Regions from separate parts of the Homo sapiens genome. Here regions 1, 3 and 4 are each reported to be linked to region 2. Evidence: microRNA targets listed by miRTarBase, many of them from high-throughput screens and not tested one by one. Region 2 holds a microRNA gene; each other region holds the end of a gene's coding sequence.

Region 1 (3,146 bases), not on the chromosome of region 2:
GAGAAGAAAGATTCTTCTGCCTGATAGTTATTTTAATGCTCTAAAAATCCTGCAAATCAGACCTTCCTGTCCCTTGCAGGATAACTGTAAGGCTTTTTAATGTAAGGAGGCTTCTGGAGGAAGTGAAGAGCTATGGAAACAACACACATAGTGTGGAAAAATTTCACATTTTTTTTAAAAAATCTATAAGAAACAACGTAATATGGATAACAGTATAATAGCATTTACAATATTTCACTCTTTGTTCTCTTAATGTCTTATATAGTTATTTAGCATGTCCCCCAAATTGACTTCAGTTGGTATTTCCTGCTTTTTAAAGGTCCCTATGAAGAATTAGGGATGCTCCTTGGTCCAGAGTAGATGCCAAGAATGGAACTCCACAGTCATTGCAGAAAAAACATGATTTGAAATCAGTCACCATTGCAGACAATGCATATTCCCTTAAGCTACTGAGCATGAATGTCCATGACTTGTCCACTCATTGTTGGGTCTCCTGTATTAAGAACTGTGGGGCTTGATGCTGACATTGGCATTCCAGGGTGGGGCGGTCCTCCATGCATCATCACTGTTGGGTGGTGAGGGTGTCCAGGAATGTACGTATGCATGGGGGGCCCATGACGCAGCTGAGCAGGATGGGGGGGCATCTGGGGTTGGGTATAACTTGGCTGTCCCATACTCACACCCATTGGACCACCCCGGGCTACATACTCCCCTGGCATACTTTGCAGCCCTGTAAGAAATTCAAAAGAAAGAAACAAAAAGAAAATGTTATGAAAAAGCAATAGTGTGGTCCTGGCTATGACAATCCTATAAAAGCCAGAGAACCCTGTGATTAAGGGAACATGGTTTTGTAAAGCATTCTTTTGATTCATACAGAAGAAAATAAAATGAGAAACATCATGCTGGAAACTCACATTTTGCCACTATTTTCCTTTCATTGTCACTGTTATCAGGTCCGCCTACTGAGGTCTTATTTATTAAAAAGAATAAAATTGTTATTTGAGGTCTGGTCTGAAGAAGCACTTTTGTCTCCTGAAATATTCTCTATCAAGAATACAAGAATACACTGAGCTGGTCACCAAACATCTCACAGGCAGCTGAACTACACAGGCTCACTAAGGGTGATTACTTAGCAAAACCTGTACTTAAAAAAAGAAAAAAATCAAAACAGTTATCAATGAATTCTTTCCACATGGTTTCTTAGAGCTGGGGAAAAGAAAATCTTCACAAAACACTGTCCACCTTATAATGATTTTGAGAACAATAAGAAAAATTGGACCTAAAACAATACCCCTCCTGCTTTGAGGGGGCCTCTTGTCTTCTGCATGGATTGCTATAGTTGATGGAAACTGACAGGTGTATTGTTTCTGAGAGCTATAAGCTCCATAATCATCAAGGGTGAAAGGCATAACGCTATTGCTAAGTAGGTTCAATTGGCTTTAGTTCTAAGTAATAGTGCACTGTGAATACGATGAACACCTTCGAATAAGGTCTCCAGGCTCTAACAATGAATGGCTGCTTAATCTAGCCTAAAGGAACATTTTTGAACTAATGAAAATTGCTTATAAAATATACTGTACCCACAGCTCTTTAATCAAAAAAGATGATAATTTTTTTTGTAATAACCTAGTAATTTAATTGGTCACGAAGCATAAAATACATCATTTAAATTTAATTGACCCAGAAACTAAGAAACAATATTTAAATTAACTAAGCTAGAGAATTCCATGATGAGGTAATAAGACTGTTGCATTCCCCAGCTCAATGGAATGTTTTCAGAGCTAATTGTTAAACTTATATTTGACTCACACCCAGAGAAGATGACCAGTACGAATTACCCCTGGCCTCAGCAGTGATTTTAAATAGTGCATAAATATAATCAGAGACACAAGCAAGACTCTGAAATAACTGCTTTTAATTTCAAAAACAAAGCAAGAACAGTGCTATTAGGGGTAATTTAGGAAGTGAACAAGAGCCTTGGTGTTCAAAACAGTTTTACTTGTTTGAACTCGAATTGCTGGAGTGTCTTTATAGGAGAGAAAATGCAAGAGTGAGAATCTGGGACAGTTTTCCTAGGCCCACTTCACTAGGCCTGCCACTGATGATTGCATTAATGATCTCTATTTTTGTATACTGAATAAGTCAAATCCATTTGTCACACTGCAAGTGATGGCATACTTAATTTGGATATAGTCAATTAGCCTGGGCTAAGCCCCGCAGCCTGCTGTGCACACCTCTATTTTGTATTCTCCCTTTTCCCATTGCCACACGTAATCCCATTATGATGGACAGACAAAGGAATAAACTAAGAAAAAAAATCAAAGTTTAGTTGACTGGAGCTCAAAATATGCCTTTACTTACCCTAAGTAAAGCTTGTGTTTATTTTACCTAAAAGAAGTCTCTGTTTAGCTTTTCGGTGTCTTGCAGGTTAGTGTAGAAATGTAACTCATGCATCAACTGCGGTTAGACAGATTTATGACACTTTGGGGACATGCTCTTCCCTCTCCTTGCACTGCTGCAGACTGCTTACATTTTGCAAATCAGTCTGTTGCTATGACAACCCACTCCCCCACCTCCTGACTGCTTCTTGTTTTGTCATGTGGTCAGTACTGTACAATAGCAACACACAGGATAAATGTACATCATACACAGTATTTATAAGCTTAAAAGCTTGATCACAACCAAAAAGAAAATGATGGAAGCAAGAAACCAGGAGTTTAATGGAAAGGAATGAACAAGCATGAAGCTATGGGCAAGGAGAACATAAGAAAATGCAAGAGGAAAAATATTCCTAGGACAAAGTGAAAACAAAGACCCCATTTGTACTTACTTCCCCCTTGCTTTGCGATTGGTTAACTAGATGAAGGTTACATGTAGTGCCACTGCCCCTCCATGCCCATATTCATGCCCATTCCACTCATAGGTCCTAGAAGGGAGATAAAAATCCAAGAAGAGGCCAGAAAATGAGCAAAGTCAACAGATAGTGCCAAAAGACCCTTAAAAAAAAAACAGGATCTAGAGGGTTGAGAAATAGTGAGATCTTCAGTGCATAAAGATCCTGGCTTCCCCTCTGCAATATCTTAGATGCACAGATAGCAGACAAGGCAAGGCAGCCAGCTTGAGATAACAGAAAAGGATGAGGCGGA
Region 2 (3,000 bases):
ATCTAACTACCAAAATCCTATTGATCCTCCCACTTCATCTATTTGGAGCAAGAAATGGTCAGAATTTCGTTCAAAACTCTATTTGTTTTTTTTGGAGACAGGGTCTCACTGTTGCCCAGGCTGGAGTGTAGTGGCACAATCATGGCTCACTGCAGCCTTCACCTCCCGGGCTCAGGTGATCTTCCCACCTCAGCCTCCCAAGTAGCTGAGACTATAGGCATGTGCCACCATACCTGACTAATTTTTTGTATATTTAGTAGAGACAGGGTCTTGCCATGTTGCCCAGGCTGGTCTCAAACTCCTAAGCTCTAGCAATCCACCCACCTCGGCCTCCCAAAGTGCTGGGATTACAGGCGTGAGCCACTGCGTCCAGCCCTTCAAAATCTTTTTTTTTTTTTTTTTTTTCCTGAGACAGAGTCTTGCTCTGTTGCCCAGGCTGGAGTGCAGTGGCGTGTTCTCAGCTCACTGAAGCCTCCACTTCCTGGGTTCAAGCAATTCTCCTGCCTCAGCCTCCTGAGTAGCTGGGACCACAGGCGAGTGTCACCAAGCCTGGCTAATTTTTGTATTTTGAGTAGAGGCGGGGTTTCGCCGTGTTGGCCAGGTTGGTCTCGAACTCCTGACCTCAGGTGATCCACCCGCCTCGGCCTCCCAAAAATGCTGGGATTACAGGCATGAACCACTGCGCCTGGCCCAAAATTCTTAAAGTATGCTTTCCATTCCCTTGCACACATTCCTGTTCTATTACTAATAAAATGCAATCATTACACAGTTGAAGAATAGCAAAATGAGTTCATGCCCAAAGGTAAAATAATTATATGCTCCAATTAATGAAAGACAAGTCACTTTATAATGACATCTGCCTCACCCTAAACACCATCTGTCCCCTTCCATGTCTCTTTTCTTCCAGTCCAAATTATCCAAGGAACATCTACAACTTTGTCTGATGGAGGCAACACTGCTAAGACTAAGTGTGAATATGCCACACACCAGGGAAAGTAGTAAGTTGTATAGTTATCTTCTAATTGGGGCCTAATATCCCTACCCCACAACAATACAACTTACTACCTCACCCTGGCATGAGCAGAATCCTCTAATAAGGGCAGCAGGCAAAAGGCCATTTTACATGGTGACAGACTCTTTTAAAGATCTTTTGCTAGATTAAGGGTACCAAGGCATCTACCCTACTTCACTGCTTTAAAAAATATTGTGCAGGCTTTGGTACAATCATTTTCCAACTCAAGTGCGAAAGGAGACAGGTGTAGGGAGGCAGAAGAATGTTCTGAGGAAATATGGGTGGGGGAGACATATGATATCACATGAACCAACTGATAGAATCACAAAATGGCTACTGACCATTGTTAAGAAGATCAGAGGGAATAGGAAACATACGGCAGTCATACCACTAAGCCCAGAGAGCTACCTTCATGAACAGCACACTATCCAAGACAATGTTCCTAGACTTTTAGATTCCATGGACCAATAAAATTTAATTAAAAAAAGAACAAAAAGTAGAGACTAATGTAGGGGTTGCCAACTTTTAGTTTAGCCATGTAAGAAAAAACATCCAATCAACATCATTTAATAAAAATATTTTGGTACCACAGAATTAGGAATATGATCTCTAAATACAAAAACAGCCTTTTAAATGGAATAAATTCAGCTTTATGAAAAAGGCATTAAAGCTCCTTGATTTTGTTCGTTTCCACAGAGGACTGGCATTTGAGAACCACTGTCATCAGTTATTCTCATGAAGTGCCACACCATGGTGGTCATCAAAGGACCAGCCACTTCAAAGATGTACATGAACATGCTGTTTCAGAGGACAGAGTTGCAGTCAGGAAATGAACAAGACACATGACCTCATTACCCATGCCAGAACAAAGTAGATAATAACCAGAACAAGAACCTGAACAGAGCCAGTCGGAGAAGAAGTGTACCACCGTGGGAAAGACAGTAGACTGTATAGTTATCTCCAAGATGGGGTATGACCCTAAAACTATACAATCTACTACCTCATCCCACAGAGCACCAGTGTCCATCTTCAGCCTATGTGGGCCAGCTACTCGGAACTATCAGGATAAAGAAGCAACCAATTGATTAGTAAGAAGGGAGAAAGGGAAGGAGAGTTACCTGAGAGATTCTGTTCAGTGGAGTCATTTGACTTAGATGCAGTACACTGCAAAAAGAAGGGATAGACCAATGTGGGACTTTGCAAGCACCTAAGATAGAGGTCAACTGTAATAGTCACCATCCTCCACCCAGACCATCTAGGAGTTCAGTGATCTAATGGAGAATGCTTTGGCCATGTGACCAAAGGAAGGTGATCATTTCACTGTGCAAATATATGACCAATTTCTCTATACATACTCAGGTTCAAGAATTGTTTGGGGCTGAGGGGGAAATAAATATGGAAGGAAAGGATAATAAAAACCCCTTAGGGATGGGCACGATCATGATCATTCTAGCAAGAATTTCTTGGTTTCATCTATGTATTTTTTCCCTTCATGGGGCTTATTTTTTATTTTGTCCACTCTAGTCTTTTCAGTCACAGGCTAGGTTCACTTATTTTTCATCCTATATCAAGTTTGAAACAATGTGTGTATTAGGTAAAAAGTTCTATATAAAGATATTTGTTAGATCAACCTTGTTATTTTAACTGAACACTTCACTACCCTTATTTTTAATCTACCTGATTCCTTAACTGCTGAGTAGGGTATACTAAAGTCTTTCACTCTCAAGTCTTATTTCTTTGTATTTCTATCAGTTTTTCCCCCTTTTATATCAAGTGATACACTGTAATGTATAATTCTATCAACATTTACTCAGACATTTAAAAGATCTCTGTCTGAGGTCCCAGAAGTTTCAGAAAAAAGTAGGTAACTTCCTTCTAAACCAAAATTGTATTAGTGATTTTATACATGTGAGCCCTAGAAAAAATGACATGTGGTGATGGGGTTCAGAGTACAAACATTTTCTCTGATCTGACACCTAGGCTGATCT
Region 3 (3,157 bases), not on the chromosome of region 2:
GTGAGCCACCACGCCCGGCCAATTTTAAAAATTTTTTTTTTTTTTTTAAGCAATGGGGATCTTTCTATCTTGCCCAGGCTGGTCTTAAACTTCTGGGCTCAAGCAGTCCTCCCACCTTAGCCTCTTAAAGTGCTGAGATTACAGGTGTGAGCTGCCAGCCCAGTAATTTTTAAAATATATACTATTTTTAGAAATATGCACTTTTATTTTATTTGTATAAATTTACAGGATACAAGTGTAATTTTATGAGCTAGATTGCAAAGTGGTGAAATCAGGGCTTTTAAATACGTTTAGACAAATGCCCTTTTCTTTCTTCCAGAGATGAGAGTCCTGCCAAAGCAGAATTTTTTCAGCATTTGATTGAAGACCGGACAGAGGCTGCATTTTCTTACTATGAATTTTTGCTTCATGTTCAGCAGCAGATTTGTAAGTGAAGTAGAATAAAATTGAATAAGAAAAAGATCTATAACCTAGGTAAAGCATAATCTGTCAGAGAAGCGCGTGAGAAATTTGAAATGAAGGCATTTGTTAATACAAGATGCAACGCACAGCACTCTGTCTGAGGCTTTGGTAAAAAGTAAAGGGGAAGAAAGAACTTGACAGATCTTTTTCAACTCAAATTAATGGTAACGATGATGCTGTTTCACCAAGTATATTTTGAATTGGTTTCTACACATTTCCAGTAGTATGGCAGTACAGTGCTCTGTTCATTGCAAGCTGGCAAATTTATGTAGCTATGTGGAATGATATGTCATAATGTAAAATTAGATAAATTCTTTTTTCTTATAATTAATATAACATTTCTGGACTTGAACTCTGGCAAGAGATGCCAAAAGGCATTGGTACCGTGTTATTTGTTTATATGAATTACTTTTTAACAAGGAATGTTTCTTATTCATTAAATGAATTCAACATTTTCTCTGTAAAAACAATAGAGTTTCAGTACATGAACTATAGAAAAAAATCTATATATAATGTACATAAATGTTACATTTGTAAAGAAAATGTAAAAATGTAACTATAGCATATGAATTGCTTAAACTGTGCTGCATTGTTGGATGACAACTCTTTTTGTCACAGTTAGAGAATGAGGTTGACTAATGCATATTATGAATTGAGTCCACAAAGGAACACAAAACTCTTTGTAATTCTGTTAAATCTTTTATGTAGATTTATTTATGATCAGCCTACTAATTAAAACTATTTCGCTTGACAGTATGGTTTGGTGATTTTTTGGGGTTTTTGTTTGATTGGTTTTTTGTGGGGATTGGTGGGTTTTTTTACATACAGGATGTATTGAATTTACTAATTGGGGAAGTGCAGTGATACTGCATTTCAGTTAGTAATATATATGAATCAGGCCAGGCGCGGTGGCTCACGCCTGTAATCCCAGCGCTTTGGGAGGCCAAGGTGGGCAGATGACTTGAGGTCAGGTGTTCATGACCTGCCTGACCAACATGATGAAACCCCATCTCTGCTAAAAATACCAAAATTAGCCAGGGGTGCTGGCGGGCACCTGTAATCCCAGCTACTCAGGAGGCTGAAGCAGTAGAATCGCTTGAACCTGGAGGCTGAGGTTGCAGTGAGCTAAGATCACGCCACTGCACTCCAGCCTGGGCAACAGAGTGAGACTCCATCTTAAAAAAAAAAAAAAAGTAATATATATGAATCAATACACTTTCATTAGTCTGTGGACATTACCAAGTACTTATTCTGTTTGTATTCTAAAACAAATGGTGCTACTTTCAAAAATATTCTTAACTAGTAAGTATAATCTTAAATTGTCTTTCTTATTTACATTAGATATTTTTGCCTGCACACTTATAGCAAGAAAATTTTAGTAACACATATCACTATCCCATTTATTTAATTGACTTTAAGATTGCCATCTTGAATTTTGAAAGTGATTTTCTTCTGATCAAGAAACCTCTCATTCACTAACAACTTATTTACTATAAAAAACTCTTAAGGATCCATTAGATTATGGGACATAATTTTATTCTGTACACTATGAAAGTCCCCATCAACAAACTTTGGAAGGAAAAAGACTCTGCCAGGCATGATGGCTCATGCCTATAATCCTAGCACTTTGAGGGACCAAAGCAAGCGGATGGCTTGAGCCCAGAGGTTCGAGACCAGCCTGGGCAACATGGGGGAAACCCTGTCTCTACAAAAATACAAAAAAATTAGCCAGGGATTGTGTGCACCTGTAGTCCCACCTACTCAGGAGGCTAAGGTGGAAGGACATCCTGAGCCGAGGAGGTCAAGGTCGCAATGAGCTCTGACCACACCACCGCACTCAGTCTGGGAGATAGAGTGAAGCCCTGTCTCAAAAAAAAAAAGAAAAAAAAAGAAAAAGGCTTGCTGTGTAGTGGGTTATTTTTACTGTTTTTGTGCTTTCATGGATCTCATTTCTTTGGATAAAAATAAAAGTACTCTCACATTCCCTGCTGGAAATGAGAGGTTAAATGACTCACCCTAAATGACATTACTTACTAATTAGTGTCAATGCTAATAGTAAAAATCCAAATGTTCTCCCTACCCACAACCTACTCCCACCCCACCCCCCACCCACAGGACCATACTTGTCCCTATACCATGCTGCCTCTAGCAAGAGAGAATCTGAACAGTAAGAGAAACTAAGCCAGGCATGGTGGTGCCTTCCTGTAGTCCCACCTATTTGGGAGGCTGAGGCAGAAGAATCACTTGAACCTGGGAGGCAGAGGTTGCAGTGAGCCGAGATTGCACCACTGCACTCCAGCCTGGGCAAGAGCCAGACTTCAACTCAAAAAAAAAGAGAGAGAAACTTTAGTACTCTAAGGGCAACTAAATACTGCAATTTTACCATAAAAAGTATAATTCTTCTTTATAAAAGACAAAAATCTTTTGTCTGGATATTTTGTCTCTCATTCAATAAATATTTGTAAGCATTTAATGCTTGCCAGATATTGTTCCAGGCACAAAGTAAAATCTTCACTTCCACAAAGCTTATACTCTGAAGTGAGAACGTAGAAGACTGGGGAGAGGCAAAAATCATTTTATATAATTTGTAAGTGTGATATATAATTCTATGTAAGTATAGTGAATGTTATGAAGAAAAATAAAGCTCGGAAAGGAGATGGAAAATACTGTTTTTGATAGTGAGCAGGAAAGGCTC
Region 4 (3,157 bases), not on the chromosome of region 2:
GGGTCCGGGCGTCGGGGTGGGGGTGGGGGCTGCAGTGGGCATGGAGGAACAGAGGGAGAGACTTAATTGGGGAGGGGGGACTGGACTGCTGAGGGACCCGCGGGCCGAGTTGCGCTTCATGTCTGAGGCCCAGGACTGAGTGGGCTGAGAGGCCCAAGAGTCAGCGCCTTTGGGTGGGTCTGGGAGGGGCTGCCATGCACAGTGAGCGCTCCCTGTGTGGGGCCTGGAGATGTGCCAGACACCCCGGTGAAGGTCCTGGGCCTGCCAGCTGAGTCCCCAAGACCCTGGCCAGTGCCGCTGGGTTCCCGGGGCTCCCCGAGCTAACCCCAGGCCTGTGGGCTCTGTTTTCTGGAGCAGGCGCCTGGTCAGGGACACCTCCTCAGCCCAAGTCCTCATTTTATGCATTTGGTGTTTTTCAGATTTTGCAAGAACGAGGCTCAAGGATGTGAGGGACACAGTATTGACAGCTGAAGAAATGATTTACGTTTTCCCGAGATGTAATGAACTGCCATGTCCAGGAAGCTTGGCTGTGAGAAGAAACCTGCTTTTGATCATTTTTCTAGAGATCTGGGTGTGAATCCTTTTTTGCCTCTGAGGTGGGTGGTGAGAGACGGGCCCAGCTGTCCAAGGCCAGACGTCCCCAAGTTGGGGGAGCACGGCGGCCGGGTGGGCGCTGCCTCTTGGGGGGGCCTCGCTCTGTTTTTTCCAAGTGCCACGTGGGACTGAGGCAGACACTCCCAGTCAGCCCGCTCGATCCTGAAGATCGTGTGAAGGAAGCGTTCTTGGTGCTACACACAGTCTGGAAAAGCAGCCTGGGCTTCACTGGCAGGAAGCGGCCGCAGCCGCGTCAGTGTCCAGCACGTCGTGGCCTCTGGTCCGACCACCAGGCCCTAGTCTCGGTCAGGGAGTCTGCTCTGCCTCCCAGGCGGGATCGCTGGTTTCTCTCGACCTCGCAGAGCTCCTGACAAAGGCGGCTTCTGCGTCGTCACTGCTTCCCGGCGCCATTCCGAGGCCGGGCCTTCTTCTGACACGGGCTCCAACCCCACCTGACCAAGCCCGGGACAGTCAAGGCTTCTCAATTTGTATTTTCCAGGCAAGAGAACTTTGTACCCCTTCTCTGTGTGGATAGACTCCCCAGCGTTTTTCCTCTGGAAATGCCCACAGGGCTTGCCGCGTGGAGACTGATCTGTTCCATCCGTTAGCGCGAGGTAGCAGTGTCGCCTCGCCCCTCCCACTGCGGGCTCACGGGGAGCTGGCGTCTGTCAGTGCCTTGTCACGCCTGGCATAGAGGTTGGGCTGGAGGCCTGTCCACTGGCTTCTGGAGCTGAAGGTCTGCGTCACGGTGAAAATTCGGGATGTTTACAGAGCATCACAAATGCCTCTCTCTCGCCGCTCTCTCATTTTCTTTGTATAACTATGCAGCCTTCCCTCTCTTTCTGGGATGTTTGGGACTTCACTCGACCTGCACGGGCTCTGCCCGACATGCCGTGGGAGCTGCTGGGATTCCTTTAGAAACCGCTGCCCGCATGCTTTGAAAACAGACCTTTCTCAGCTGGCTGTGGGGACCTGTCAGAGTCTGGGGACTCGGCGTGCAGGGCGGGCTCCAAGCGCTTTGCTTCCGGAACTCCGGCTTCCCAAGGGGTACTGTGCAGACTGACCACCGGCCTCCCGCCTGCAGGTCAGAGGCTCTGACACTGTCTGGTTTCCAATGCTTCTGGAGACTTCCTGCCTAGGCCTCATCCTCCTCTTTGCCAGTCACCTGATTAACCAATTCTCCAGCATTAGGACTTACCTCCTTCTTTTTGTAAGGTCTCTTGTATGTTGTTAAATGTTTGGCTTAAACAATTTATAAAAGCCTTTCTAGAAGGCAGACTTAGCCCCAGCAGAGCCTGGGAGGAAGGCGGCCGCTGGGGCTCCTGGGCATCCTCTCTGGGGAGCTGCTGGCCGCTTAGCGTTGTTTGATTTTTGACCTTGACATAGTAGATAGGCTTGTGGTTTTTTTAATTTAAAGATATTAAGACTTAATTCACTAAAATTTATTCTAAGGGGATATTTATACTTTTATACTTTTTTAGGTATCGTATTTTATCAGCTTACAGTTTAATGCCTAAGTTTCCCCTGGAAATAGCAAATAAAATTGTGTATTTATGAATGCGCGTAGTAGCTGTTTATGGTCTTAAGATGCAGGGGAATGCCACCCCGGGTCGCTCGGACCAAGGTGCTGCCCCTCCAAGCCGCCCAGCCCCACTGGCCGCGGCGGCTCACTCAGGGCTCTGCCTCTGCCTCTCAGTCGATGGCCAGGGCGGAGCTGGGCCATCCACGGGGTGCCGGCTTGGCCAGGGTCACTGGATCAGAGCTGCACGGCCCATCCCTGCACCCCACTCTGCCTGGACCCCTCACCTACCTCCAGCAGATAGCATACCCCCATCCCGGGAGACCGGAGACCATGTACAAGGGCCTTTTTTTTTCCTTAAGAGACAGGGGTCTTGCTATGTTGCCCAGGCTGGTCTTGAACTGCTGGGCTCAAGTGATCCTCCTGCCTCAGCCTCCTGAGCAGTTGGGATTACAGGCGTGAGCCATTGCGCGCGGCTCAAGTGATGTTTTTTTGAAAGTCCTGATACCTCAAGTTAGCATCCACCTCTCTTCCCTCACTTTAGCCTGCAGCCTGGGTTGTGACAGCAGGAGCTTCCCGAGAAGGTCCTGGGGTCCCGGCACCCCCTCGCCAGCTGCTGTGACTCCTCCTGGTGGCTGCTCCACGAAGCCTTGGCTGTTGGACTCCCCGCCCCCCCGCAGGGAGATTCCCATTCACGGTGTCCCCCAGGGCCTGGCTGTCTGAGGTCACAGAGCCTCAGGCTGTAGTGGCCTTGTCCATCCTGTTTCCAGGTGTGTGGCTGGCCCAGCCTGACCCCAGGGCCCTGGTGAGGGGTGGAGTGGGTGACTGGGCTTCTGGGTGCCCAGCATGAGGCCGGCACGGGGCTTGGAGTAGGGGAGAGACCCAGTTTCTGCTCCAAGGGGTCTTCCCGCTGCCCGACTCCCACCAGGAGCCTGGCTAGGCCTTACAGCCCCTTGACCAGGTAGAGTTGTGGGCACTTGGGAGAAGCCTCAGCGTGGCAGGCGTCCCCAGCCAAAGCCCGGAGCAGGTTTCCCATCCAAGCAA

What was found. Region 2 holds the annotated microRNA hsa-miR-98-5p (UGAGGUAGUAAGUUGUAUUGUU, at 1,048-1,069, opposite strand). A microRNA usually pairs through its seed, bases 2 to 8, with sites in the 3' UTR of a target mRNA and lowers its output. Matches are read on the target gene's strand: a 7mer-m8 pairs with bases 2 to 8, a 7mer-A1 pairs with bases 2 to 7 and ends in A, and an 8mer does both.
Region 1: the mRNA of MEIS1 is a reported target of hsa-miR-98-5p. The part of its 3' UTR that is shown has no 7-base or 8-base seed match.
Region 3: miRTarBase lists SEC24B as a target of hsa-miR-98-5p. The part of its 3' UTR that is shown has no 7-base or 8-base seed match.
Region 4: the mRNA of KCTD5 is a reported target of hsa-miR-98-5p. The part of its 3' UTR that is shown has no 7-base or 8-base seed match.

Annotation. Positions count from the first base shown.
Region 1 is chr2:66,568,830-66,571,975 of GRCh38, reverse strand. It overlaps MEIS1 (Meis homeobox 1), which reads right to left. Exons shown (of 13, transcript NM_002398.3): 12 at 2,831-2,926; 13 at 1-730. The coding sequence ends at 2,868. Among named protein-coding and RNA genes, the nearest start is that of LINC01798, 3.6 kb to the left of the region's middle. RefSeq lists enhancers at 1-1,023, 1,002-3,082.
Region 2 is chrX:53,555,252-53,558,251 of GRCh38, forward strand. It overlaps MIR98 (microRNA 98), which reads right to left and starts at 1,090; the gene lies at 972-1,090. HUWE1 (HECT, UBA and WWE domain containing E3 ubiquitin protein ligase 1) reads right to left here. Exons shown (of 84, transcript NM_031407.7): 60 at 2,131-2,176. It overlaps MIRLET7F2 (microRNA let-7f-2), which reads right to left and starts at 2,023; the gene lies at 1,941-2,023.
Region 3 is chr4:109,539,242-109,542,398 of GRCh38, forward strand. It overlaps SEC24B (SEC24 homolog B, COPII component), which reads left to right. Exons shown (of 24, transcript NM_006323.5): 24 at 320-1,655. The coding sequence ends at 434. Among named protein-coding and RNA genes, the nearest start is that of MCUB, 19 kb to the right of the region's middle.
Region 4 is chr16:2,706,879-2,710,035 of GRCh38, forward strand. KCTD5 (potassium channel tetramerization domain containing 5) reads left to right here. Exons shown (of 6, transcript NM_018992.4): 6 at 420-2,152. The coding sequence ends at 449. Among named protein-coding and RNA genes, the nearest start is that of PRSS27, 12 kb to the right of the region's middle.